Linked DNA regions of Homo sapiens. The protein of the gene in region 6 purifies or fractionates together with the protein of the main gene of each other region. This does not show direct contact. Each region holds a gene or a part of one and is shown on either strand. Other genes may lie near its edges. The genes, in order: ARSB, PTPRU, MAN2B2, ALG9, CNTNAP1, CLGN and ABCA2.

Region 1 (2,602 bases), on a different chromosome or scaffold from region 6:
TAACAAATAGAAAAATGGTATAAGTGACAGTGTACACCTCTAGAGACTAGGTCATGAAAGGCCCTGTGGCTCCCTGTTTATTTGCTCTGGAGGAAGTTAACTGCCATGTGTGAGGACATCCAAGCAGCCTGTGGAGATGCCCACATGGCAAGGAGCTGAGGCCTCCAGCCAAGAGCCTTGTGAGTGAGTCAGCTTAAAAGTGGAGCCTGCAGCCCCACTCAAGTCTTCAGATGACCACAGGCCTGCTTGACAACAATCTCACGAGAGACCCTGAGCCAGAACCACTGGGCTAAACCACTCCCAGTGTCCTTACCCTCATAGAATGTGTGAAGTTATGAATGTTTATTGTTTTAAGCTGCTAAGTTTTGGGGTAATTTGTTACGCAGCAATAGAGAGCTAATACTCTCTTTTACTGTCACTTTGTTTTCACTCCTACCCTTCCTTGACCTCCCTCTAATACCTTATTTTATAGTTTATATTCTTAGGGCAATGATTGACACTTTTTTTAGTTCTAAAATTTTTACTATATTTATTTATTTAACAGCTTTACTGAGATATAATTTATGTACTATAAAGTTGGTTGACACATTTAAAAATTGTAATAAAACATAAAACTTAACATTTTAACCACTTTAAAACATACAATTCAGTGGCAGTAATTGCATTTATGATGTTGTATAACCATGACCACTATCTAGTTCCAGAACTTTCTCCTCACCCCAAATGGAAGCCCCATACATATGGCTGACACATTTTAAAAGATTAATTTTATTTTGTCCCCCAAATCTGGGGGGACAAAAGTAACAAAGAAAAATGAGCTCACAATTAAATAAGCAAAACCTTCTGTAAAGGTAAAAAAATTTGCCGGGCACAGTGGCTCACACCTGTAATCCCAGTGCTTTGGGAAGCTGAAGTGGGTGGATCACTTGAGGTCAGGAGTTTGAGACCAGCCTGGCCAACATGGTGAAACCCTATCTCTACGAAAAATACAAAACATAGCCAGGCGTGGTGGTGTATGCCTGTAATCCAGCTACTTGGGAGGCTGAGGCAGGAGAATAGCTTGAACCTGGGAGTTAGAGGCTGCAGTGAGCCGAGATCACACCACTGCACTCCAGCCTGGGTGACAGAGCGAGACTCCATCTCAAAAAAAAAAAAAAAAAAAATTGGAAAGAAATAACATTATTTCTAACAACAATATATCAATCTTTTCACATTCTTATATAGAATCAGAGAATCTAATGAAATACATTCTATTATGGATAAACCAAAATCTCAAGTACTTGTTTTACAAAAAATTAAGTCTTCAAAACTCTTTTGAAGTCCACTGGGTGCAGAACATCCCCCACTGTGCCTGAAAACCAAGGAACTAGAACTGGAGACAGCTGTTGGGAGGACAGCAGCGATAACAGATAGGTGCCCTGTAGCGATGGCCTCCAACGGCTACCTACACCCAGCCCTGGGATTCGGAGGATGCAGAAGGAACATCTGGGCTCAGCTATTTCATGCTGTCGGCCATACACTTCCAAGTGGGAGGTGATGGCAGTTTGGTCAGCTGTTTGCCAACCCAGGAGTTGGGTAAAGGTTGGTAAGAGATGTTATTAGTTTTAGCACCATTTCCTTCCAATAGTCTCATTTTAATACAATACAGGTTAGTAGTGACCAGAAAATATTGCTACTGAATTGAAGGATGACTATACAAGGACTTATATCAGATTATTTGTTGCTTTTAGTTTCTAGTGTCCCATAAAGTATAGAAATGGAAATTGCTGACAAGAGAGTACCTTTGGTAGGCACAGTTCCTTTTCTCCCCCCACTGGAGAGGACGCTACAACCTTGCTATAGAGTGTCCTGTGACTGCCCAGTGATGTAGATTATGCTCCTACCCCAGGAGGGGCAGCTTGAGAACAGAAAAGCAACAGCTGGAAGACATTTATATTACCTCTGTATTCAGCTCATTGGACTAGCATCTTTCATGGTGTGAGACTTTCTCATTTACTCATTTGTCCATTTATTCATTTGTTTTAAAAAATGAGGCCAGGCATGGTGACTCATGCCTGTAATCCCAGCACTTTTGGAGCCCAAGCTGGGATAATTGCTGGAGCCCAGGAGTTTAAGACCAGCTGGGCAACATAGGGAACCTTGTCTTTTCAAAAAATAAAATTAGCTGGGTGTGGCGGTATATGCCTGTAGTTCCAGCTATTTGGGTGCCTGAGGTGGGAGAATCACTTGAGCCCAGGAGTTTGAGGCTACGGTGAGTTGTGATTGTACCACTGTACTCCAACCTGGTGACAGAGTGAGATCGTCTCATAAAGATATAAAAAATTAAAAATAAAATAAAAATTAAAAAATGAGTGCCTTCAGGCAGTGTTCCAAGCATTGGTGAACACAATGGTGGGGCTAATGCAGAAAAGAGTATCATTTTTGCACACATTTCTCTGGGTTTGACACTCTCTGGAGCTAATATGGACTGTTCCACATTAGTAAGACATTAGTGGGATTGAGAAAGGGCTGCAGGTGTCAAACTGCATCCTCTTTGCCAGACCCCAGAACCTCAAAACAAGCAGTAAAACAGAGAATAAGAGGACTGTGGGTGTGCCCTCCT
Region 2 (3,500 bases), on a different chromosome or scaffold from region 6:
GGAGGCTGAGGCTGAAGAATTGCTTGAACCCAGGAGGCAGAGGTTGCAGTGAGCCAAGATGGTGCCCCTGCACTCCAGCCTGGGTGACAGAGTGAGACTCCATCTCAAAAAAAAAAAAAGAAACCGAGAGCGTGATGGCAGGCAGAGTAGAGGCCAAGAAGGCTACCAGGCTACTGCAATAGTCCAGGCAAGATCTAATAAGGCTGCAGAGAAGGGGCCTGGATTGAACAAAACCTTTTGTCAAGAGCCACTGAGTCATGGTCCATCCAGACCAATTCCCCTCCCAGAGATGCCCAGGACTCACTGAAGGTGCTGCAGGCCGCCTCATGCCTCTAGACCAGTGCTGTCTGCAGAACTTTCTGAGAGGATGGAAATGTTCTCTGCCTGCATTAACCAGTACAATGAGAGCCACTAGCAACATATGACTCTTGAGGACTTGAAATCTGACTAGTGCAACTGAGGGATTGAATTTTTATTTTAATTAATTTAAATGTAATACCCATACATGACTCAGGAGCCACCGTATTGGAGAATGCAGGTAGAGGACAATTTCCATCACCACAGAAGGTTCTATTAGATAACACAGCTCTAGGCTGACCGTTGAAAAACAGAACTATCGGGGCCCCTTCCAAGGCTTCTGGCTTTGGAGTCTGAAGAGCGATCAGGAGGCAAGTCCCAGGGAAGGGGCTACCAGAGGTTGAGTTGGGTACAGCCACCAGGACATTCCCACCCAACACGTCCACACCCCTTGTGGACACATCCTGGATACATGGACACCACCATAGGTCACAAGGGCACCTCCACATCTAAACATACAAATAGACACATGAGGCCAGGCACAGTGGCTCACACCTGTAATCCCAACACTTTGGGAGGCCGAAGCAGGTGGATCACCTGAGGTCAGGAGTTCAAGACCAGCCTGGCCAACATGGTGAAACCCCATCTCTACTAAAAATACAAAAATTAGCCAGGCATGGTGGCGGGTGCCTGTAATCCCAGCTATTCGGGAGGCTGAGGCAGGAGAATCGCTTGAACCCAGGAGGCAAAGGTTGCAGTGAGCCGAGATCATGCCATTGCACTCCAGCCTGGGTGACAAAGCGAGACTCCATCTGAATAAAAAAGAAGAAAAGGCCGTGCGCTGTGGTTCACGCCTGTAATCTCAGCACTTTGGAAGGCCAAGGCAGGCAGATCACAATGTCAGGAGTTCAAGACCAGCCTGACCAACATGACGAAACCCAGTCTCTACTAAAAATACAAAAATTAGCCAGGCATGGTGGCGTGCGCCTGTAATCCCAGCTACTTAGGAGGCTGAGGCAGGAGAATCACTTGAACCCGGGAGGCGGAGGTTGCAATGAGCCAAGATCACGCCACTGCACTCCAGCCTGGGTGACAGAGTGAGACTCCATCTCAAAAAAAAGAAGAAGAAGAAGAAGAAGAAGAAAAAAAAAAAATAGACACATGGCACCCCACACCCAGACTCACTAACAACTGGATACTTCAATGACTGGGTCCCTGTTGTTTCATACACAGATACCCCCACCCTCAGATACCCGGACACTTGGGGACCCCTACAACCAGACACTCAGGCACCTGGCCAGCCCCATACCTGGACACAACACAGAGACACTCCCCACTTATAAATACCCACTAACCTGAGGACTCCCAGACACATGGATACACCCACCTCCAGCCCCAGGGATGCTGGGATAGCCTCTGTCTGCACACCCTGATCCTCCCACATGCTGGTACTGGGTTGTCCACACCTAGATAGCGAGACACCACCCATCCAAATAGCTCTGCACCCAACTCCAGGAATGTGATACTTGGATAGCCAGACACCCTTAGCACCAGGCTCCCCAGGGGTCAAAGCAGCTGGTTACCTCCCTACTCCAAACTCAGATCCTGCCACACCACACGATAACCAGATGGCTAGACACCCTAACAGGTCACATGTGTCCATGCCCCTAGTTACAATCCCTACACACCCCCCACTCTGACTGCCCAGATGCTAGAGTCACATCTGCACACACCTCAGCCAGCCTCCCCAACCCCATCTGCCAGGGCCACCACGGGATGCAGTTCTCCTCCCTTCCCTCCGGTGCACAAGCGGTGAGAACAGAGGCTGTGACCCCACCCGCCCACCCTAGGATCTAGGACTGAGGACTAAGGGAGGGTCTTCCAGGAAGCTTCCCTCCCTCTCCTAACACAGGGCCCTGCGGGCTCCCTCCCTCCTCCCCAGCCACTCACACAGACCGTTGAGACTCAACGTCTCACCAACTGCCAGGCCCCATCACAAAAGCCTGAGACTGGGGGCTGGAAGGGCCCTGCCAGCTGCTAGGGGTGGGGCCAGAGCCTGGGGGAGGGGCTGGCAGGCAGGAGGCCCGTTCCCTTCAGTCTCTTGCCAGGGACTCAACCTCCCCAACTCAAAGCTCCCAGATGACACTCTCAACATGGCCTTTTCACAACATAACACCATCCCCCACCCTCCAGGAATTTTCCAGATTCCTGGAGGGAAACCTGGTTCTTCAATCTCTACCTTCAGTGGAATCAGTGCACCCCCATCTGGCATCTCCACCTCTGAACCTGGCCCCCTTAAACTTTATTCTTTCAGGCCATATATATTTATTCAGACCCGGTGGGCCAGGCCTTGTACCTGGCACTAAGATTCAGAAGTAAACTAAAAACCCAGTCTCTGTCCTCAGCTCTCAGTCTGGTAAGGGAGACAGCACTAATAAACTGTAATTACAATAATTACAATGCTATGTAAAAATCCAATTGACCCCCACCCCCCGACTTCCTAGGCTAGGACAGGGCATCACCGAGGAAGGCTTCAGGGACTGGATGATGCTTACAGCTGAGAGCCCATCAAGTTGCAGGAGTTCACCAGCAAAAAGCTGGAGTTAGAAAGTTCTGCAGAGAAAGCACGGCTTGCCCAAAGGCCCAGAGAGGAGACAGCAGGCTGTGGGCATTTGGGTCTTTGGTAAGAAGGTCAGGCTGGCCAGATCATAGGATGCAAGGGGCAGTGACACAAAACAAGATGCAGCTGGACAGGCAGGCAGGAGCTAGAGCCAGCAACAGGGCCAAGGGATAAGGACTTCACCCTGAAGGCAATGGGGAGCCTTCAAAGGGTTTTAAACCCTTTGAGTTAAAATGTACTTTACAAAGATCCCTGGCACCATGAGGGAAAGAGGGAAGGAGGAGGCTGGAGTCTTCCTGCAGGTGAAAGATAGCTGAGGACGGACAGAAGGAGACAGATGAAAGAGTCTCTGAGAGGGCAGACAGGACGTTCCAGGATGCAGGAGGGCAACTAGGAAAAGGGGGGAGGGGGAGGAAGGAGGAGCACAAGGTACCCCCTGCAACTCTGGCCAACCCAGTCCTGCATGGAAAGGCCACCCCATATGCCCAGCTGAGCTGATGAAAATCATGGAAGGATGGTGGCCTGTCTCCATCAAGCACGATGCTTGCCCTAGGTTTTTTCTGACACCAGAGCTGGGCAGCAG
Region 3 (3,500 bases), about 130 Mb from region 6:
TGCTCCTGTCTTCCTTTGCTGTCCAGGGCCTGCCTCGAGGCAGGGGCTCCACCAAGGTGAGATGGAGGATAAAGGGCCCGGAAGCAGTGAGGGGTGATCCAGCCCCTCTTACCCCAACATATCTGAGAAAACCAGCCCAATGTGGACATAATTCACAGCCAGAATGCCTGGGACATCTGAGATGGGTGGTCTGATACACACACTCTGCCCCCGCCCTAGGGACTACAAGTTAAGGAAAGAGCCCAGGCCAGGCACACATGGGCTTGAGCGCCAGTTCTGTTACCTACTGCATATATATAAATCCCGCATCTCTCAGTACCTCAGTTTCCTCATCTGTCAAATGGGGCTGTGAACAGTACCACTTGCTACCAGGCTGTTCTGAGGCAACTAAGAGATAGCAGATGGGAAAGGGCTTGGCTCAGCCGCCAGTGAGAGGGGCTCAGCCACAAGTAACCTTCCTGACTCGGCCGGGCTAGGGTTGGATCTGGGTCCCATCACTTAGCTGGTGGTGGGCACATTTGGATAGCATTTGAGCCTCAAACTTCTCTACAAATAAGCATTTGTAAGATTACCCATCTACCAGATTGCCCTGAGGACTGAAAAAAAAATACGTGTACATCTTGTACCTAGAACAAGGTGGTTATCATGAAAGAAACCCACATGTCTGTACCCTGAGGGCCCCATGAGCTTGGACAGGTTTGGAAATGGAGCCTCACAACAGCCGCTGTCTCTTGTGTCTCTGGAGGCTCTTCCTGCCCCAGAGCGACACAGCCTCAGCTTCCCTGAGGCTTCCAGTTGCCAGGTCAGACCTGCAGGGTCAGCGCTGGGGTATCAGCACTTAGGCACGGTGGGCTGAGGCCAGAGGCGAGGTACCCCAGTGGTGGGTACCCTCAGGGCAGGGCAGTTCAGCGCCCACCCCTTGCCCAGCCTTGCCCAGTAAGCAGTGGTCTGGGCCAGACCCTATGCTGGGTGCTGAGATGAGTCAGATGGGGGTCCCTGCCAGGGGCATCTTGAGGTTCAGCGGTTAAGTGGGGAGGTGACACAGAACTGCAGAGACTCAGAGATTTCCTGCGGGAGGGGCTTCTCAGCTGCATCTTGAGGAGGAGGGTGGAGAATGAGGGGGAGCACTGCGTGAAATGGCACAGGTGAGAAACAGCCCCAGAGCCTCCTCGCTGGCACGGGGCAGGAGGCAGGTGGGGGACACGCCTACAGTGTCACACATTCCCTGGCAGTGGGCTTGTGAAGGGGTGTGGGGGAAGTCTGTTGGGATAGATCCCTTGCCCACACTTCACATGGGGGAGTGAAAGAGCAGGGGCTCTGGAGTCAGGGAGCCACAGCAGGCGGCTGAGGGCAAGGTGCTCCCTCTGAGCCTTGCTGTCCTCCCCTGTTACCTCTGGGCCTGTGGGGATGCAGGGGGACAAGCAGGGGCTGAGCTCCTGGCCACAGGAGGAGCTCTGTCTGTAGGGCTGTGTCCATCACGCCTCCTTCTCATGGAAGGGCAAGTCTAGGGTTTGAGCAAAGTCCAGATGTAAGGCAGTAAGAAACTGAGACAGGGGAACACTCCAGATTACAGATGAGAAAAGGGAGAGTGCCAAAAACATCCTTTGACAACATTGCTCTCTGCCTGGATGTTTTACAAATGGGGAAATCAGGGCCCATGCTGTAGTGGAGTGACTGTGGACTCGGAGCTTCAGTCCCTAGGCCTGGACTCAAGTCCTGGCCATCTACCCTGGAGAGAGTTACTGCATTTCTTTGGATCTCAGTTTCTACATCTGCAAAATGAAACTGGGCATCACCATGCCTCACCATCAGCCCGCCATTAGGATTGGCTGGGGTGTCACTGTGAAAGGCATTTGGTAAATGGTGAGTAGAGTGCCCCACGGCACTGTGGGTGATGGTGCTGAGGACAGTGGACACAATGGTGAGGGAGATGGTCATGGTGGTGGTGATGATGATTGTGGAGGGGATGGTAGTAATGGATGTGGTGATGGTGGTGGCGACAGTGATGGGTGGTGATCATGGTGATAGTGTTTAGGGGGTGGTGGTGATGGTAGTGGTAGTAATGGTCATTGTAGTGGTGAAGATGATGGTGGTAGTGGTGATGGTGGTGATGGTAGTGGTAGTAATGGTAGTGGTAGTGGTGGTCATAGCAGTGGTGAAGGGTGGTGGTGATGGTAGTTATGATGGTGGTGGTGATGGTAGTGGTAGTGATGGTCATTGTGGTGGTGAAGGGTGGTGGTGATGGTGAAGGGTGGTGGTGATGGTGGTGGTGATGGTGATGGTGGTGGTGGTGATGGTGAAGGGTAGTGGTGGTGGTGGTGATGGTGATGGTGGTGGTGATGGTGATGGTGGTGGTGGTGGTGGTGGTGATGGTGGTGGTGGTGGTGATGGTGGTGGTGATGGTGATGGTGGTGGTGATGGTGGTGGTGGTGATGGTGGTGAAGGGTGGTGGTGGTGATGGTGGTGGTGGTGGTGGTGATGGTGATGGTGGTGGTGCTGGTGATGGTGATGGTGGTGGTGGTGGTGGTGATGGTGATGGTGGTGGTGATGGTGGTGGTGGTGGTAGTGGTGATGGTGATGGTGGTGGTGCTGGTGATGGTGATGGTGGTGGTGGTGGTGATGGTGATGGTGGTGGTGATGGTGGTGATGGTGGTAGTGGTGATGGTGATGGTGGTGGTGGTGGTGATGGTAGTGGTAGTGATGGTCATCGTGGTGGTGGTGGTGATGGTAGTAGTCATGGTCATTATGGTGCTGAAGGTGGTAATTGTGATGGAAGGCAGCAAACACTTACTGAGCATTTACTAGGGAACCCACATCCTACTAAAGTGCTTTATTTGAATTATCCCATTTAATACTCACAACAACCCTTTGAGGTAGGTATTACCATCAAACTCATTTTATCTATGAGGAAACTGAAGTTACATTCCTTTCCAGGGTCACAGAGGAGGGAATTGGCAGAGCCAGGATATATTGAGACCATCTGACTCTAGCATCCATGCTCTTAACCCCTACATTCAACTTCCTTGGTGAGGCATGAATATGGCACTAGCAAATCACTGCTTTCACTGGTTAAGGTCCCCGACCCCACTAAGAGGGGCAGACAGAGCTCAGAACCTGGGGGTTCTGATACCATGTCCCAGCCCCACTGGAGGTCCTGAGGGACCCTGGGTGCAGGGTAGGGTGGCCAAACCTGTGAGCTGCAGGATCTGGTCATCAAGGTGCGTCACAGCCTCGTCATGCATGACCTGGCCTCCGATGACAAATTCCAGGCGTCCTTCCTCCAGGAGCTGGCGGACCTTGACATGGGCAGGCAGAGAGAAAAAAGCCAGTTACGGCTCCTGAGCATGGCTGGGTCTGTGGGGAACACACCTACAGCGCCACACACGCCCTGCATAAAACTCCCCACCCTTGCTTACTCTATAAAAGCAGGGCACTGTCTGTCCTGGTCCACACTGTGTTCCCACCACCTAGAAATCATGCAGCCCTCAGGTGGTATTTGA
Region 4 (3,500 bases), on a different chromosome or scaffold from region 6:
AGTGAGCCAAGACCCTGCGCCGCTGCACTCCAGCTGAGCGACAAGAGCAAAACTCCATCTCAAAAAAAATCTCAGAAGAGAACAAGCCTATTTGAGTTTTCTATCTTTTAAAGAAGTGTATATTAACCTGATAGGTTGCTTAAGGTAATCCACGAGATAGTACTTCAAACGAAAGTATAAAATCTGAACCATACAGGGATTTCCCCAAATTTGATAGTGAAGTAAGGGAAGCTTTGGACTTCCTCAGAAGCATGATGCTTTTCTTTGTTCCTTTTTGTTTCTGTGTCTGCCTTATTGGAGAAAGTTTGGTTTGTCGTTTGCTTTGCTTGCTCTGATTCTGTAGTGCACAGCTGGTGTTTTCTCAAGTTGTCGTGGCTCTGGATATCTAGTGCCTCTCATTTCTTTTATGGAAGACAGATTTGAACAGAAATTCATATGAGGTTTGGAAAAAGATTTAATTTCAGACTTTGCAGTCTGATTTGGATGCCATATGATCAGTTCCCCCATCCCACCTCCATTCTGCTTTTCTACTATTAATGGTTTATAATGAGTTCGTTGTATTATAAGAATATTAGAGCAGCCTTCAGAGTCACTTTTCTTTGGTGTTAGGACTTTTGTTTCAACGTAGCCATAATGCCATTATCCTAATAAAATTATCAGTAATTTCTTAATATCATCTAATACCCATTGATTTCCTAGATTGTCTGAAAAATAGCCTTTTATAGTTAGTTTAAAGCAGAATCTCAACAAGGGTCACGTACTGAATTTAGTGTTATATTTCTTAAGCTTTTTAAGAAGACCCCCATCTTACTTTTTTTCTTTCGAAGATTTCTTTAAAGAAACCAGGCCATCATCTTGCATAATGTCCCACATTTTAGACTCAGCTGTTTGCTCCCTTGAGGTGTTAACTTATTCCTCTATCCCTTCTATTTCTTAAGGATCACTTTTTCTTTTTTTGAAAATAGCTATTTTTCTGACTATAAAAATAATTTATGATAGCTGGGAGCAGTGGCACGTGCATATAGTTCCAGCTGCCCGGGAGGCTACGGTGGGAGGATTGCTTGAGCCCAGGAGTTCGAGACCACTCTGGGCAACATAGTGAGACCTGTGTCTCTGTTTTTAAAAACAACAATAATAATTATTTATGCTTGTGGAAAATTTGGAAATGCTTGTAACGTCAGTAAAAAAACAGGATATTAAGCTGTTCTCTACAGTATGATAAAATTTTAAGTATAAAATATTGGTTTAAAATGCATAATGTATGCACATATCTACCTAGTAAGAAAACATTTTCTGTTTTTTTCTTTATATTTTTATGTGATTTTAGAATAGAACCAATACTTTTTTAAGAGAAAAAAGACCAGGCACAGTGGCTCATGCCTATAATCCCAGTATTTTGGGAGCACGAGGTGGGAGGATTGCTTGAACCCAGGAGTTCAAGACCAGCCTGGGTGAGATAGCAAGACCCTGTCACTACGAAAAAAATTAAAAAATTAACCGGGCATGGCGATGCACACCTGTAGTCCCAGCTACTTGGGAGGCTGAGGTGGGAGGATTGCTTAAGCCTAGGAGGTCAAGGCTACAGTGAGCCATGGTTGTGCCACTATGCTCCAGCCTGGGTGACAGAGCGAGACCCTGTCTCAAGAGAAAAAAAAAGTCCCCCAAACCATAGAAAATTATTAAGAAGCAGGAAAGAAATTACTCTTGATTTCATCATATCTAGCTGTGGTTGTGATTTTGTATATTTTATGGAGGACATTTCAAAATTTTTTGCCTTATTAAAAAAAGATTACTCGTTAGCCTTTAAGGTACAGAAGAGAAAAGGACTGTTTACTTGTGGACAATAAGTGGATTTATTTTCTTCTAATTAAAAAACCCCACCTTAGGCCAGGCACAGTGGCTCACGCCTGTAATCCCAGCACTTTGAGAGGCCGAGGCGGGTGGATCACCTGAGGTCAGAAGTTCAAGACCAGCATGACCAACACTGTGAAACCCCATCTCCACTAAAAATACAACAGTTAGCCTGGTGTGTTGATGCATGCCTGTAATCCCAGCTACTAAGGAGGCTGAGGCAGGAGAATCATTCGAACCTGGGAGGTAGAGGTTGCAGTGAGCCGAGATTGTGCCACTGCACTTCAGCTTGGGTGACAGAGAGAGACTCCGTCTCAGAAAACAAAAAACAAAAAACCTCCCCCTTAAAATATACTACCTAGAAAGGTATATATTCTAAATTATTATCTAAAATCCCATAATGTCTTAGAGCAAAAGTTGAAACAAAATCTTGTTATTGTAGTTCAAGAATTTTTATCCTTAAAGAATTTCTACAGTGAAAGTGATAGCCTAGGAATGCTAAATTAGGCATAGCTAAAGTGGATCTTGACGATAATCCTGATCTTGTAAACTGGCTTACTGTTAACATGGTGGACACCAGGGGGCGCTGTCTATCTACCATTTGCCCGCATTTGCGTTGCTCATTATCACTCCTGTAAACGCAGTAGGAGATGCCTTCACTGTGGGTTGCAGGCTTATCTCTCATTTCTCATGTACCTAACCACGGGAACTTTCCAGCAGGTTCTTGGGTTTTAGTGTTCATTACATTCCTTTAATTCTTTCACATGCTTTAAGTACATTTTTGTTCCAATTTGGGGATCCGGAGTGGATGAGTATTGCAAAATGGAGAGAAAACAATCACTGAACTTCCTTTAAGAGCATTTTTATGTTTGCCTTGAAACAAACTCCGTCATTTGTGGCTTGATGAAAACCAGTAATGAATTTGAGAATCCAACAATTTTGTTTTCCTTTGATCCATGGCTATTTGAACAGACTGATTGGTGTATAGATAAGAGACACCAATTAAACAGAACATTGGAATTAAAACCCCAGAAATGAATTTATGTTATGCTTTTGGTTAAACTCAGGAACTTTTCGTCTTAGTGGCAGGACTCATTAAAGGAGACGGCTTATTTTTCCTTCATCTAACGTAGAATTTATTAAGTTCTATTAGCCATTAACTTGACATTTATATGTGTCCTAACCAAATCTAGTATTGTGCTTGTTGTTAGAGTTTAGATCTCTTGGGAGAGCTAAGGAGTATATTCTTCTCTCCTTTTGATGCCTTTATGGCATTGGAGAAAGTGTGAATACAAGAGTAGAAACATTCTATGGAGTGTCCTAGGGCATACTCCTAAATTTGAGATCAAGATAACACTAAAACTAAATATGTTGTTTTGTTCTAATATAATGAAAGATGGGTATTTTTCTGTGTCTTGCAGTTCAGAATTTAGGCCACCCGTATTGGCTTACCTTGGCTCCAATGTATATTTGGTTTATAATTTTCTTCATCCAGCCTCACAAAGAGGAGAGATTTCTTTTCCCTGTGTATCCACTTATATGTCTCTGTGGCGCTGTGGCTCTCTCTGCACTTCAGGTGAGTTTCAGGGAGAAGTGTATCTGCCTCATTCTTTTTTACTTATTAAATAATTGCTCACAAACTTAAGTGC
Region 5 (4,143 bases), on a different chromosome or scaffold from region 6:
CCTTCTCCTCGGTCTTGAAGCTGAAGGCGAACACGTCCCACAGGCTTCGGCTGACCCCTCGCGGGAAGCGGTAGGAGATGGCATCGTCGCCGTCGAAATAGAGTATGTCGGCCTCTGCGCAAAGGACCGTAGGTGGGCCGGGAACTGGGGAGGCTGTCTCCCAGGCCCCCTCCGCGCTCTCTGCACACTTACTGTATGGGCAGCCATAGAGGCCGAGCCTCAGGCCGATCTTGCCGCGTGGGTTCCAGGCCAGGGGCACGATGCGGATGTAGCGCGCAGTGAAGTGGAAGTGCAGGTCATGGCGCACCACCGCCGACTCGTTCACGTTACCAAAGAAGGTCTGCGGGGGTGGAGGAGAGTAGTAACCACGTCCTGCCCTCTGCTTCTTTTTTTTATTTTATTTTTTGAGACAGAGTCTCGCTCTGTCGCCCAGGCTGGAGTGCGGTGGTACGATCTCGGCTCACCGCAACCTCTGCCTCCCGGGTTCAAACAATTCTCTTCCTCAGCCTCCCAAGTAGCTGGGATTACAGGCGCCCGCCACTACGCCCGGCTGATTTTTTTGTATTTTTCATAGAGACGGGGTTTCACCATGTTGGCCAGGCTGGTCATGAACTCCTGACCTCGTGATCCACCTGCCTCGGCCTCCCAAAGTGCTGGGATTACAGGCGTGAGCCACTGCGCCCGGCCCCCCTCTGCTTCTTTCTCCATAGCCTCCCAGCCCACAACTTTCACACCCAGCCAATCTCGACTTCTGGAAAGTAAACACTCCTTGGTCTTCCCTGCTTGGCGGCTTTGCCCGCACAGTTTCCATAAAGTGCCCTGTCCCACAATCCTATTATTTCCTCAGACCTGAAATCAAATGTCACCTCCTTAGGAAGCTCTCCCAGGTTTTACCCTAAAGTGTGTTAAACCCTGTGAACCGAGTGTTTCGCGCACGTCCTAAGCTGACAGTCCCTCTGGACAGAGTCCCTGGAGTGGAGTCACTGCTCCTTGTCCGAGCCCTCACCACCACCCCCTCCATTTTCCCAGAGGCTGGTGCCCGGCCCAGAGCCTGGAGCAGAGGAAGCTCCCCAAGTGTTACCGCCTTGGCGCCCAGAGTACCGAGTTGTGCCCTCGCTGGTAGAACGGTGTCCAGCTGTCCACTCGGTCGCCGTAGAGTAGCATGTAACGTGTGACCCAGTCCCAAGAATTAAAGGAGCCCTGTGTGGCCACGGCCCGGATCCGGTGCTTCTTCATTAAGTCTATCTGGAGCCAGGGATTCGGATCCCCAATCCGTGGTGACCACCCGCTTATGCCTATAGAAAGGACAGGAGCTTTAACCGGCTATCCCTCTCCCCGAAGTCCTCCGGAGGCCCCCACCCTTCCGCGGTGCGCTGCCAGTTGGCAGCTGATGTTCCGCGGAGCTCACCGTGCAGCCTGGCGAATCTCGGCGCAGTAAGGAGACTGTAGTAGGAGGAGGCGCCCAGGGAGCGTGCATACAGGGGACCCACCAGCTCCTCGTCGCAGCCGTCTAGGGTAGGGAAACCGACTGTTAGTCAGCGCTGGCCCCTCCCAGACCCTTCCAAAGGCCGGCCCACTTAGCGACCGAAGCTTCCCCTTCCGTGCCCCCAACCCCCGCCCCCAGAGGCACACCCAGCCCTACCTTAAAGCCATCTATTCAATCCTGGCTGCAGCAACAGCTGCATGCTCAGAGGAGGCTACCTTCTCCTTCTAGGCAAACCCCTAGGCTACACCTATAGGCCCAAGGCCAGACCCTCCCTAGCTAGCCCAATACCTGCCCTGGTTTAGTACTTTCCCAAACTCAATCCTAAACCTCAGCATCTTCCACAACCTAAGTCAACCCAAGACACCAATCCAGCTCCAACCCTAGCCTCAATCCAACTCGGCCCCCAAAACCTGCACCATCCCCAAATACAGGCCTTGCACCCAACCTCAGCCAGTGCTAGCACCATCACCAGCTCCATGTCCAGCCTTAGCATCAGTCAGGGGCACCAGCTCCTGCTTGGATCCCTGCCACAAAACCCAGCCCCAGCCACAAACCCCAGCCCTAGCCACAAACCCCACCCCTTGGCCAGCTCCAAAGTCCAGCCTTAAGCCCTGGCAAAACCTTAATCCTAGTATCGGTCACCAGTATACACTTATCCCCCAGCCCTAGCCTCAAACCCAGGCACCAGCTCCTGCTTGGATCCCAACCCCAAATCCCTGCCCGCTGACTTCATCCTCTTCCCAGAGCCCAGCCCCAGCCCCGGGCGCGCGCGGCAGCCTCAGAGCTGCAATGCGGAGCGCGGGGGAGAGGCAGGAAAAGATGAGAGCCAGCGGGCGCGCGCCGGCCGGGAAGGACCCGCGACCACCCAGCCGCAATGCGGTTCGGGGCCGCCCTGCAGGCTCTGGACTCCTGGGCCCAACCCCACCTGCCTCCAAGCCCAACACTCACAGTAGCCCCAGCCCTCGGCTCCTGAGACCGCGGCGAGCAGGATGCAGAAGAGCCGGAGATGCATCATGCAGGGCTGACGGTCCCGGCAGCCGCCTCCCTGTGAACGGCTCCGGCTAGGGCTCGAGTTCTGGCTTGGGCTCCAAGCTCTCCTCCTGGGGTTTGCAGCAGACCGCTCTCTCCTCCTTACCCACCCTTCCCTCCCTCTCTCCTTTCGCCCCCAAGCGCTCTGTCTCTCCTCTCTCTTTTCTCTCTCTCTCTCTCTGGTTCCTGGTCCTCCGCTCTTCTCTCTCTATCCTCTCCTTTCCACCCTCTTTCCTCTCACCTCCCCCCTTCCCCAGCCTCTGTCTCCTGGCACGCGCCGGTTTCCCGGACCCCGCGCAAGCGCGTGCCTCAGCCCTGCTGCGAAAGGGCGGGGGTAGAGAGCCTCTCGCCACCGGGAAAACCCCAAGTAACCCGAGGCTGCCCGGGACTAGGGCCACAGGAGTGAGGACAGGGAACCTAGGGCCAGAAGCATCCTGAAAATTTCAAGAAAAGGGAGGTGGTTTGGGGGAGGGGTGCCTGGAAATGGAATGAAGGGTAAGTAAAAGAATCTTAACATTTTCGGAAGGCAAATTATGCTCTAGGAGTGGTGCTGGGCACTGTGAATTTAGCATTTTTGCCCTACTCCACTTTGCAGATGAAAAACCTCAGGCTCAGAGAGGTCAAGAAACTTAGTCAATATCACACAGCAAATGATTATATTCCGAAGCCCGTTCTTTCTTCACTGACAAAGACAGTAAATTATTTTTTCTTTCTTTCGTTCATTCTTTTTTCTTTCTTTCCTTCCTTTTTTTCTTTCTTTCTTTCTTTCTTTCCTCTTTCCTTCCTTTCTTCTTCTTTTTTTTTTTTTCGTAAAATCCAGATCCTGCACAAGAGAGTGAAGTCTTTTGGAGGAGGTGGAATGGGAAAGTGACCCCGTAGACCCTAATCCCCACCTCCCTCTCGGCCCCTCTCCCCGCCTCTTCCTTCCTGTCCCGCTAGTAGTTTAACTTCTACCCCCTGTGGCTATACCTCAGAAACCTGTGTAGCCAGAGATGGGGACGGAGGCCACAGAGCAGGTGGGAGTGGGGGCAGGGAGGGGGAGAAGGGTTACAGAGAGGGAGGAGACAGGGAAGGAATGGGATTCCCCACCTGGCAATGGGCCTCTGCCATCCTATGGCTTATTCAGGATTCTTGGCGCTGTCTCAGACTAGGGGTCCTCCAGATAAATGGGCTGGTGGTGTGAGGCTGGGGTTGTGGGACAGGGACTAGGGCTGAGGGGAAAGGCGGGTTGAACCTAGAGGTCCAGGGTCCCACCTGGGCCCTGAAAACCTGAGTCCCAACCCTGGAGACCCCCTTGGCATGAGTGGTTCAGTGTGCTGGTATTGGAGGTACAGGGAAGGTGGGTATGGAAGGGAAAGAAGAGAAACAGAAACCCACTCCAGACGGAGGTTGGAGTCCAGGGCTCAGGTCTGAGGCAAAGCCTGCATATGGGCATCCTTCCAGGAGAGGGCGCTGCAAAGGGAACTGAAGCTGTAGGATTTATTAATAATACAAACTTTGGGCTGGGCGTGGTAGCTCAGGCCTGTAATCCCAGTACTTTGGGAGGCCAAGGTGGGCGGATCACCTGAGGTCAGGAGTTCGAGACCATCCTGGCCAACATGGTGAAACCCCATCTCTACTAAAAATAC
Region 6 (3,500 bases):
AAGAGGGTGACATTAGCACTAAATGTTCTACCCTATACCATATAAACAAATTCTTGCTGTACTAAAATTATATAACTTAAACAACCATACAGATCAATAAAGAAATAGATAACACCACAAGCCAACTAAACATAATAAACATATGGACAACACTGTACCCAACAATAGCAGAACACACATTTTTCTTAACTGCACATAGAACATTCTCCAGGATAGACCATATTAGACCACAAAACAAGTCTTAATGAATTTTAAAAGATTGAAATCATACAAAGTAAGTTTTCTGAACACAAAGGAAAGGAACTAGAAATCAATAGTAGAAGGAAAACAAGAAAAATTCACAAATATGTGGAAATTAAACAGCACACTCTTGAACAATGAGCCAAATAAGTCTCAAGAAAAGTTAGAAAAACATCTTGAGACAAATGAAAAGGAGAACAAAAGATACCAAAACTTATGGGATACAGTGAAAGCAGTGTTAAAAGGGAAATTTATAGCTTTAAGCACTTACATGAAAAACAAAAGATCTCAAGTTAACAACCTAACTTACACCTTGAGGAACTAGAAAAAGAGCAAATGAAACCCAAAAGTTAGAAGAAAGAGGGAAATAATAAAGATTAGAGCAGAGAGAAACAAAATAGAAAATAGAAAAACAAGAGAGAAAACAAGTGAAATCAAGAGTTAATTCTTCGAAAAGGTCAACAAAAAAATTAACAAACCTTTAGTTAGATTAAGAAAAATGAGAGAAGACTCAAATAACTAAAATTGGTAATGAAAGGACATTACATCTGATTCTACAGAAATAAGAGGGATTATAAGAGAATACGCTGAAGGATTGTATGGCAACAAATTGGATAACCTAGATTAAATGGATACATTCTTAGAAACACACACTCTATCAAGATTAATCATGAAGAAGTAGAAAATCTGAACAGACCTGTAACTGGTAAGGAGATTGAATCAGTAAACAAAAACTTCCCAGCAGATAAAAGCCCAGGACTAGGTGGCTTCACTGGTGAGTTCTACCAAACATTGAAAGAATTAACACCAGTCCTCCTCAAATTCTTCCGAAATATTGAAGAGGAGTAAACACTTCCAGATTCATTCTATGAAGCCAGCATAACCCTGTTATCAAAGCCAAAGACACTACAAGAAAACTACAGAGCAATATTCCAGATGATTATTGATGCAGAAATTCTTAACAAAATACTTGACAACAAAATTCAGCTGCATATTAAAAGAGTTATATACTATGACCATGTTGGATTTATTCCTAAAATTCAAGGATGATTCAACATAAGAAAATCAGTGTACCATGCCACATTTACAATGTAGGGAGGGGAGAACACATGATCATCTTTATTCATGCAGAAAAAGCATTTGACATGATTCAACACTCTTTCATAATAAAAAACACTCAGTACACTAGGAATAGAAGGAAACCACCTCAACATAGTAAAGGTCATATATGAAAAGCCCACAGTTAACATCAGACTAAATGGTGAAAGACTGAAAGCTTTTCCTTTAAGATCTAGAATAAGACAAGGATGCCTGCTTTTTCCACTTCTCCCGAGCCAGAGAAATTAGGGAAGAAAAAGAAAGAAAAAAGACATTCAAATTGAAAAGGAAGAAGTAAAATTATCTCAGCAGATAACATGATCTTATATGTATGTACAAAACCCTAAAGATTTCACGAACACAATACAAAAGTCTGTTAGAAATAATAAATGAAGGCCAGGCATGGTGGCTCATGCCTGTAGTCCCAGCAATTTTGGAGGCCAAGGTAGCCAGATCAGTTGAGTCTAGGAGTTTAAGACCAGCCTGCGCAACATGGCAAAAACCATCTCTACAGAAAAATACAGAACATTAGCTGGGCATGGTGATGCTTGCCTGTAGTCCCAGCTACTCGAGAGGCTGAAGTGGAGGATCACCTGAGTCCAGGAGTTCAAGGCTGCAATGGGCCATGATGGTGCCACTGCACTCCAGCCTGGGTAACAGAGTGAGATCCCATCTCAAAAAACAAACAAATGAATTCACTAAAGTTGCAGGGTAAAAAAACTAGCACACAAAAATTAGTTGCACTTCTGTATACTAACAATGAACAGGAAATTAAGAAAACAATTCCATTTATAACAACATAAAAAAGAATAAAATACTTAGGAATAAATCAAGGAAGTAAAATACTTGTACATGAAAAATTATGAAATGCTGCTGAAAGAAATTAAGAAACAAATATTAATCAATGGAAAGACATTGTGTTCATTGGGATTGGAAGACTTAATAAGATGGAAACACAACCCAAAGTAATCTACAGATTCAGTGCAATCCCTGTCATAATCCTAATAGCACTTTTTGCAAGAATAGTAAAATTCATATAGAATCTCAAGGGACCCCAAATAGCCAGAACAATCTTGGGAAAGAATAAGTTTGGAAATCTCACATCTCTGTTTCAAAACTTATTACAAAGCTATAGTAATCAAATCAGTGTGAGACTGGCATAAAGACAGACATATATATCAATGGGATACAATAAAGAGCCTAGTAATAAATTCCCACATATATGTTCAAATTTTTTTTATAAAAGTGCCAAGACCATTTTGTGAGAAAGGACAGTCTTCTCATGAGATGATATTGGGGAAACTGGCTATCCACATGCAAAAGAATGAGGTTGTAACCTTACCTTAAATCATAGACAAAAATTAACTCGAAATGGATTGAAGACTTAAACATAAGAAAACTATAAAACTGTTAAAAGAAAACATGGAAAGCTTCATGACATTGAATTTGCCAGTAATTTTTATATGACACCAAAAGCACAGACAACAAAAGAAAAAATATATAAATTGGAAAACTCAAAATTAAAAAGTTCTGTGCATCAAAGAACACAACAAAATGAAAAACCTATGCAATGGGAGAAAATATTTGCCAATCATATATTTGATAAGGGGTCAGTATCCAGAATTTGTAGGAACTCCTACAACTCAAAACAAAAACAAAACCTGATTTTTTAAATAGGCAAAGGACTTGAATAGACATGTTTCCCTTGAAGATGTATAAATAGCCAACAAGCACATGAAAAGATACTCAGTATCACTAATCATCAGGGAAATGCAAATCAAACCACAATATGATACTACGCCATATTAGGACCTATTACAATGACTACTATTTAAAAAAACATAATTTTGAACAAATGTTGGCAAGGATGTGTAGAAATTGGAACCCTTGTGCCTTGTTGGTGGGAAGGTAAAATGGTAAAGCCACTGTGGAAAACAGTATGAGGATTCAAAAAAAAATAGAATTATCATATGACCAAGCAATTCAACTTATGGGTATATACTCAAAAGAATTGAAAACAAGGTCTCGAAGAGTTATTTGTATACCCATATTCATTGTAGGATTATTCACAACAGCCAACAGGTGGAAGCAACCCAAGTGTCCACTGACAGATGAATGTATAAACAAAATGTGGTGTATACACACAATGGAATACTGTCCAG
Region 7 (3,500 bases), on a different chromosome or scaffold from region 6:
TACCCCTCATGCCTGCCATAGACCCCTGGGACCCTCCCCCTCTCCCAGGAGGAGCTCCAAGTCACCAAAGGGGCCCTTTCCTCACCCACGGAGCAGAAGCACCCCCAGAGGCAGGCAGCACTCCAGGCCCATCCCACACATGGATGCCCTCACCTCCATCCGGAACAGGGGATTGCCCCCTAGGCGGCTCCAGGGCTCCTGACCCTTGTGGAGGCCAGACTGTGAATCCAGGGCAGATGAGGGACCAAAGAGCAGGTGGTAGACCTAGGAGGTGTGGGGGAATGGCTCAGATGGGGTGTGGGGGGCGTGGCTCAGATGGTGGGGGCGTGGCTCCGATGGACGTGTGGGGGCGTGGCTTAGATGGTGGGGGCGTGGCTCAGAGAGTGGGGGCGTGGCTCAGATGGTGGGGGCGTGGCTCCGATGTAGGTGTGGGGGCGTGGCTCAGATGGTGGGGGCATGGCTCAGAGAGTGGGGGCGTGGCTCAGATGGTGGGGGCAAGGTTCAGACGGTCTGGGCGTGACTCAGGCTGAGCATCCTGAGGATGGCTCAGCAACCAGGGGGCGTGGCTGGGGCAGAAGGGAGTGGCCAGGGCTGGGAGCTGTCCCTGCCTTACCTCGGGCGGGTCCACACGGGCGGCCAAGAGTGCTTGGGCCGTGCTATTGGGCAGCGACAAGTTTTGCGTCAGGAAACGCCAGAGCTCCTGCGGGTTTCTGGCCACCGAGTCCAGAGAGAAGGAAGACACTGGACAGGCAGGAAGGCGAGGCTGAGAGGCCGCTGCACCTTGGCAAGGTGCCCCCACATGCGCTCGGAGCCGAGCCCAACACCACAGCTCTGCCACTGCAGCCTGTGCGTGGCTGGGAACTCAGTGCAGGTGGAGGGGCCCAGAGTGGATGTGGGCTTCAGCCCAGTGACAGCAGAGCTTTGCCCGCAGCCCTGCCCCCCAACTTCCCTGCACAGGGCACACCTGTGGATCTGTCCAGGTGGCTCCCCGAGGTGCCCGGGCCCGCACTGAGGGCCTCCAGATGCTGGCGTAGGGCCTCGAGCTCTGAGCCCAGGCTGGGCCGCGCTGGGTCAAACAGGTTGCCTTCCTCCACCACGCGGTCCAGGCGCTCAAGCAGCTGCGTGACCCTGCACCATGGCGGATGTCACTCACTGGATGGGCTGGGGAGGGGTGGGTGCTCCGAGGGGCGGGTGGGCACTCACGTGGAGTTGGCGTACTGCAGGAAGCCGAACTCGTCTCGCTGGCCGTCCGGGCACAGCGATTGCATGACAGGCAGGATGCCGGCAGACGTCAGGGGCGCCGCTGTGTAGAAGGCTGGCAGACCCACGGGAGAGGGCAGGGTCGGGGGTGAAAGGGGAGAGAGAGAGAGAGGAATCCAGAAGGGGAGGGAGACAGAGGCCGAGAGGAGAAATTTAGAGAAAGTCAGGAAGGAGAAGCAGCGTTAGGGAGAAGGCGGCACAGAGCCCTGGCCCCAGCTGGGCTACAGGCCAAGCGTTCTGGGGCGAATGACTCCAGCAGGTCAGAGGTCAAAGAGCCACTCACCACCCCTTCTGCCATAACTCCCAGAGCATTCCTTTCCTTTCAGCCAGTGCAGGCCCACATGCCCTGGCACTCTCCCCCCGAAAACGTTTCAGGTGTGGCACTGCCTACAGAGCCCAGGGGAGGACAAAGGACCCCCTCTGGGCAGTGACCTCTGACCTCTGGCCAGCTGGTTAGCAGAGTGAGTGCAAGAGCCTGAAGGAGTATGAAGGGAGAGTAGCCAGGCCGCTCCAGCCCCAGCCCAGGCCAGCCCAGCCTCAGCCCAGACTCAGCCCAGAAGCCGAGGCACCCCAGCCCTAGAAGGCAAGGCCAGGCAGAGAGATGCCGCCTCAGCTTGACCCAGGCACCAGCTGTGCCTTTAGGTGGCCGGGCCTTTCACTCCCTACCACCTCCCACTTCACTGCCTGCCACCCCCCATCTGGAGCCAGCTGTTCCTGAGGCCGGCAGGGGGCCCGGGAGGGCTGTTAATGCAAGCGGGGAGGGCGCTCAAGCCAGGACGGCCCATGGGCCCCCCGCAGCTGCTGCCCAGGCCAGCCAGGAGGAGGTGGCCGCTCACTTACAGACTGCATGCCAGCCGAGGACAAGAGACCATGCGGGGAGGGAGGGGGATCAAAACAGAACAGAGGAGACCAGTGAGTGCCCACATCACCAGGAAGAGGCGTTGGCATCATCATTCGCGGCCACAGGCCAGCCCCGACCTCCACAGCCCAGCCAGGAGGCACGGCCCAGGACCACACAGGGGAGCAGGCACCGCACCTCAGGGACTCCGGGAGCAGGACACCCGTGTGCAGATGTGCACACACAGCGCAGGCGTGCGAGGTGCCGCGCTCCCCCGGCTGTGCCTGGGGCCTCCTGCCGCACTCACCTTCCTTCACGGAGATGGTGGGCTTCTTCTGTCGCAGCCCCAGCAGGATAAAGAACAGCACCAGGGGGATGAAGATCTCGAAGGCCAGGACCCACTGGAAAGGGTGGGCCCAGTGAGGGATAGGACAGACCTGTGCTCGCCTAGGCCCTCCCCAGCCTCCCATAGGGCTGGCCCAGCCCAGACAGGACCACGTGCTCCCTGGGGCCAGGGAAGGTGGGCACAGGCCCTTCGGAACCACTGAAGGTCTGAGCCCCTTCCAGGGCACTGAGGGTAAGGATTGTCTGGCTCAGCAAATCAGGTTTCCCGTCCCCAGCCCACACTGGGCCTACGTGCCCTCTGAGGAGCCTCAGGGCCTACAGGGACAAATCGGCCAGCTTGTGGTCTACTCTGACCCATGTATATCCCAGCTCATCTTCTCCCTCCCCACCTCCAGGGCTACCTGGGCAAAATCTTGGGGACCATCTGAGCCACTAGCCCCGCCTACACTTCCCACACTGCCCCGGGTTCACCTTCCTCCCACTTCCTCCCCACCAATACCGGGGCCTGGGGAGATGAGGAGGCCTGGTTGAGAGGCTTGGCCTGCGCCCAGGGCCCTGAGCCTCGGAGAAGACCTGGTAAGGGGTCTAACAGCCCCAGTCCCTGAAGCAAAGGCACCTTTTTTTTTTTTTTTTTTTGAGACGGAGTCTCACTCTGTCACCCAGGCTGGAGCACAGTGGTGCGATCTCAGCTCACTGCAAGCTCCGTCCCCCAAGTTCACACCATTCTCTTGCCTCAGCCTCTCGAGTAGCTGGGACTACAGGCGCCCGCCACCATGCCCAGCTAATTTTTTGTATTTTTAGTAGAGACGGGGTTTCACCGTGTTAGCCAGGATGGTGTCGATCTCCTGACCTCGTGATCCGCCCACCTGGGCGTGAGCCACCACACCTGGCCCAAAGGCACCTCTTTCTGCCCTGTCCCCTCTCCTGACCCGGGGCAGCCAGTCTTGGGCCTTGGAGCTCAGTTTCCCCAGGTCGGCTCCTGCTAACCCAGGCTGGGCACCAAGGTGAGCCCTAGTGGGACCTGCGTGGAGTGAGAAAGAGGTGCTTTGCTCACTTC

Evidence for each region.
Region 1: the proteins of CLGN (region 6) and ARSB purify together in Homo sapiens (co-immunoprecipitation; 2 studies listed by BioGRID and IntAct, with this or other methods). This does not show direct contact.
Region 2: the proteins of CLGN (region 6) and PTPRU purify together in Homo sapiens (affinity purification with mass spectrometry; 3 studies listed by BioGRID and IntAct, with this or other methods). This does not show direct contact.
Region 3: the proteins of CLGN (region 6) and MAN2B2 purify together in Homo sapiens (co-immunoprecipitation; 2 studies listed by BioGRID and IntAct, with this or other methods). This does not show direct contact.
Region 4: the proteins of CLGN (region 6) and ALG9 purify together in Homo sapiens (co-immunoprecipitation; 2 studies listed by BioGRID and IntAct, with this or other methods). This does not show direct contact.
Region 5: the proteins of CLGN (region 6) and CNTNAP1 purify together in Homo sapiens (co-immunoprecipitation; 2 studies listed by BioGRID and IntAct, with this or other methods). This does not show direct contact.
Region 7: the proteins of CLGN (region 6) and ABCA2 purify together in Homo sapiens (co-immunoprecipitation; 2 studies listed by BioGRID and IntAct, with this or other methods). This does not show direct contact.

Annotation. Positions count from the first base shown.
Region 1 is NC_000005.10:78,776,709-78,779,310, forward strand, and holds the end of ARSB (arylsulfatase B isoform 1 precursor), read right to left. Parts: 3' UTR 501-2,602; downstream 1-500. UniProt on the Homo sapiens protein: Removes sulfate groups from chondroitin-4-sulfate (C4S) and regulates its degradation. Involved in the regulation of cell adhesion, cell migration and invasion in colonic epithelium.
Region 2 is NC_000001.11:29,239,522-29,243,021, reverse strand, and holds part of PTPRU (receptor-type tyrosine-protein phosphatase U isoform 1 precursor), read right to left. Parts: intron 1-3,500.
Region 3 is NC_000004.12:6,578,189-6,581,688, reverse strand, and holds part of MAN2B2 (epididymis-specific alpha-mannosidase isoform 1 precursor), read right to left. Parts: intron 3,297-3,500; coding exon 3,191-3,296; intron 1-3,190.
Region 4 is NC_000011.10:111,840,582-111,844,081, reverse strand, and holds part of ALG9 (alpha-1,2-mannosyltransferase ALG9), read left to right. Parts: intron 1-3,272; coding exon 3,273-3,427; intron 3,428-3,500. UniProt on the Homo sapiens protein: Mannosyltransferase that operates in the biosynthetic pathway of dolichol-linked oligosaccharides, the glycan precursors employed in protein asparagine (N)-glycosylation.
Region 5 is NC_000017.11:42,681,188-42,685,330, reverse strand, and holds the start of CNTNAP1 (contactin-associated protein 1 precursor), read right to left. Parts: upstream 2,801-4,143; 5' UTR 2,502-2,800; coding exon 2,435-2,501; intron 1,511-2,434; coding exon 1,409-1,510; intron 1,296-1,408; coding exon 1,102-1,295; intron 341-1,101; coding exon 193-340; intron 115-192; coding exon 1-114. Other genes in the region: CCR10 (C-C chemokine receptor type 10), read left to right, coding at 3,508-3,531. UniProt on the Homo sapiens protein: Required, with CNTNAP2, for radial and longitudinal organization of myelinated axons. Plays a role in the formation of functional distinct domains critical for saltatory conduction of nerve impulses in myelinated nerve fibers.
Region 6 is NC_000004.12:140,421,149-140,424,648, reverse strand, and holds part of CLGN (calmegin precursor), read left to right. Parts: intron 1-3,500. UniProt on the Homo sapiens protein: Functions during spermatogenesis as a chaperone for a range of client proteins that are important for sperm adhesion onto the egg zona pellucida and for subsequent penetration of the zona pellucida.
Region 7 is NC_000009.12:137,021,738-137,025,237, forward strand, and holds part of ABCA2 (ATP-binding cassette sub-family A member 2), read right to left. Parts: intron 2,500-3,500; coding exon 2,406-2,499; intron 2,104-2,405; coding exon 2,101-2,103; intron 1,316-2,100; coding exon 1,204-1,315; intron 1,129-1,203; coding exon 965-1,128; intron 742-964; coding exon 614-741; intron 265-613; coding exon 154-264; intron 1-153. UniProt on the Homo sapiens protein: Probable lipid transporter that modulates cholesterol sequestration in the late endosome/lysosome by regulating the intracellular sphingolipid metabolism, in turn participates in cholesterol homeostasis.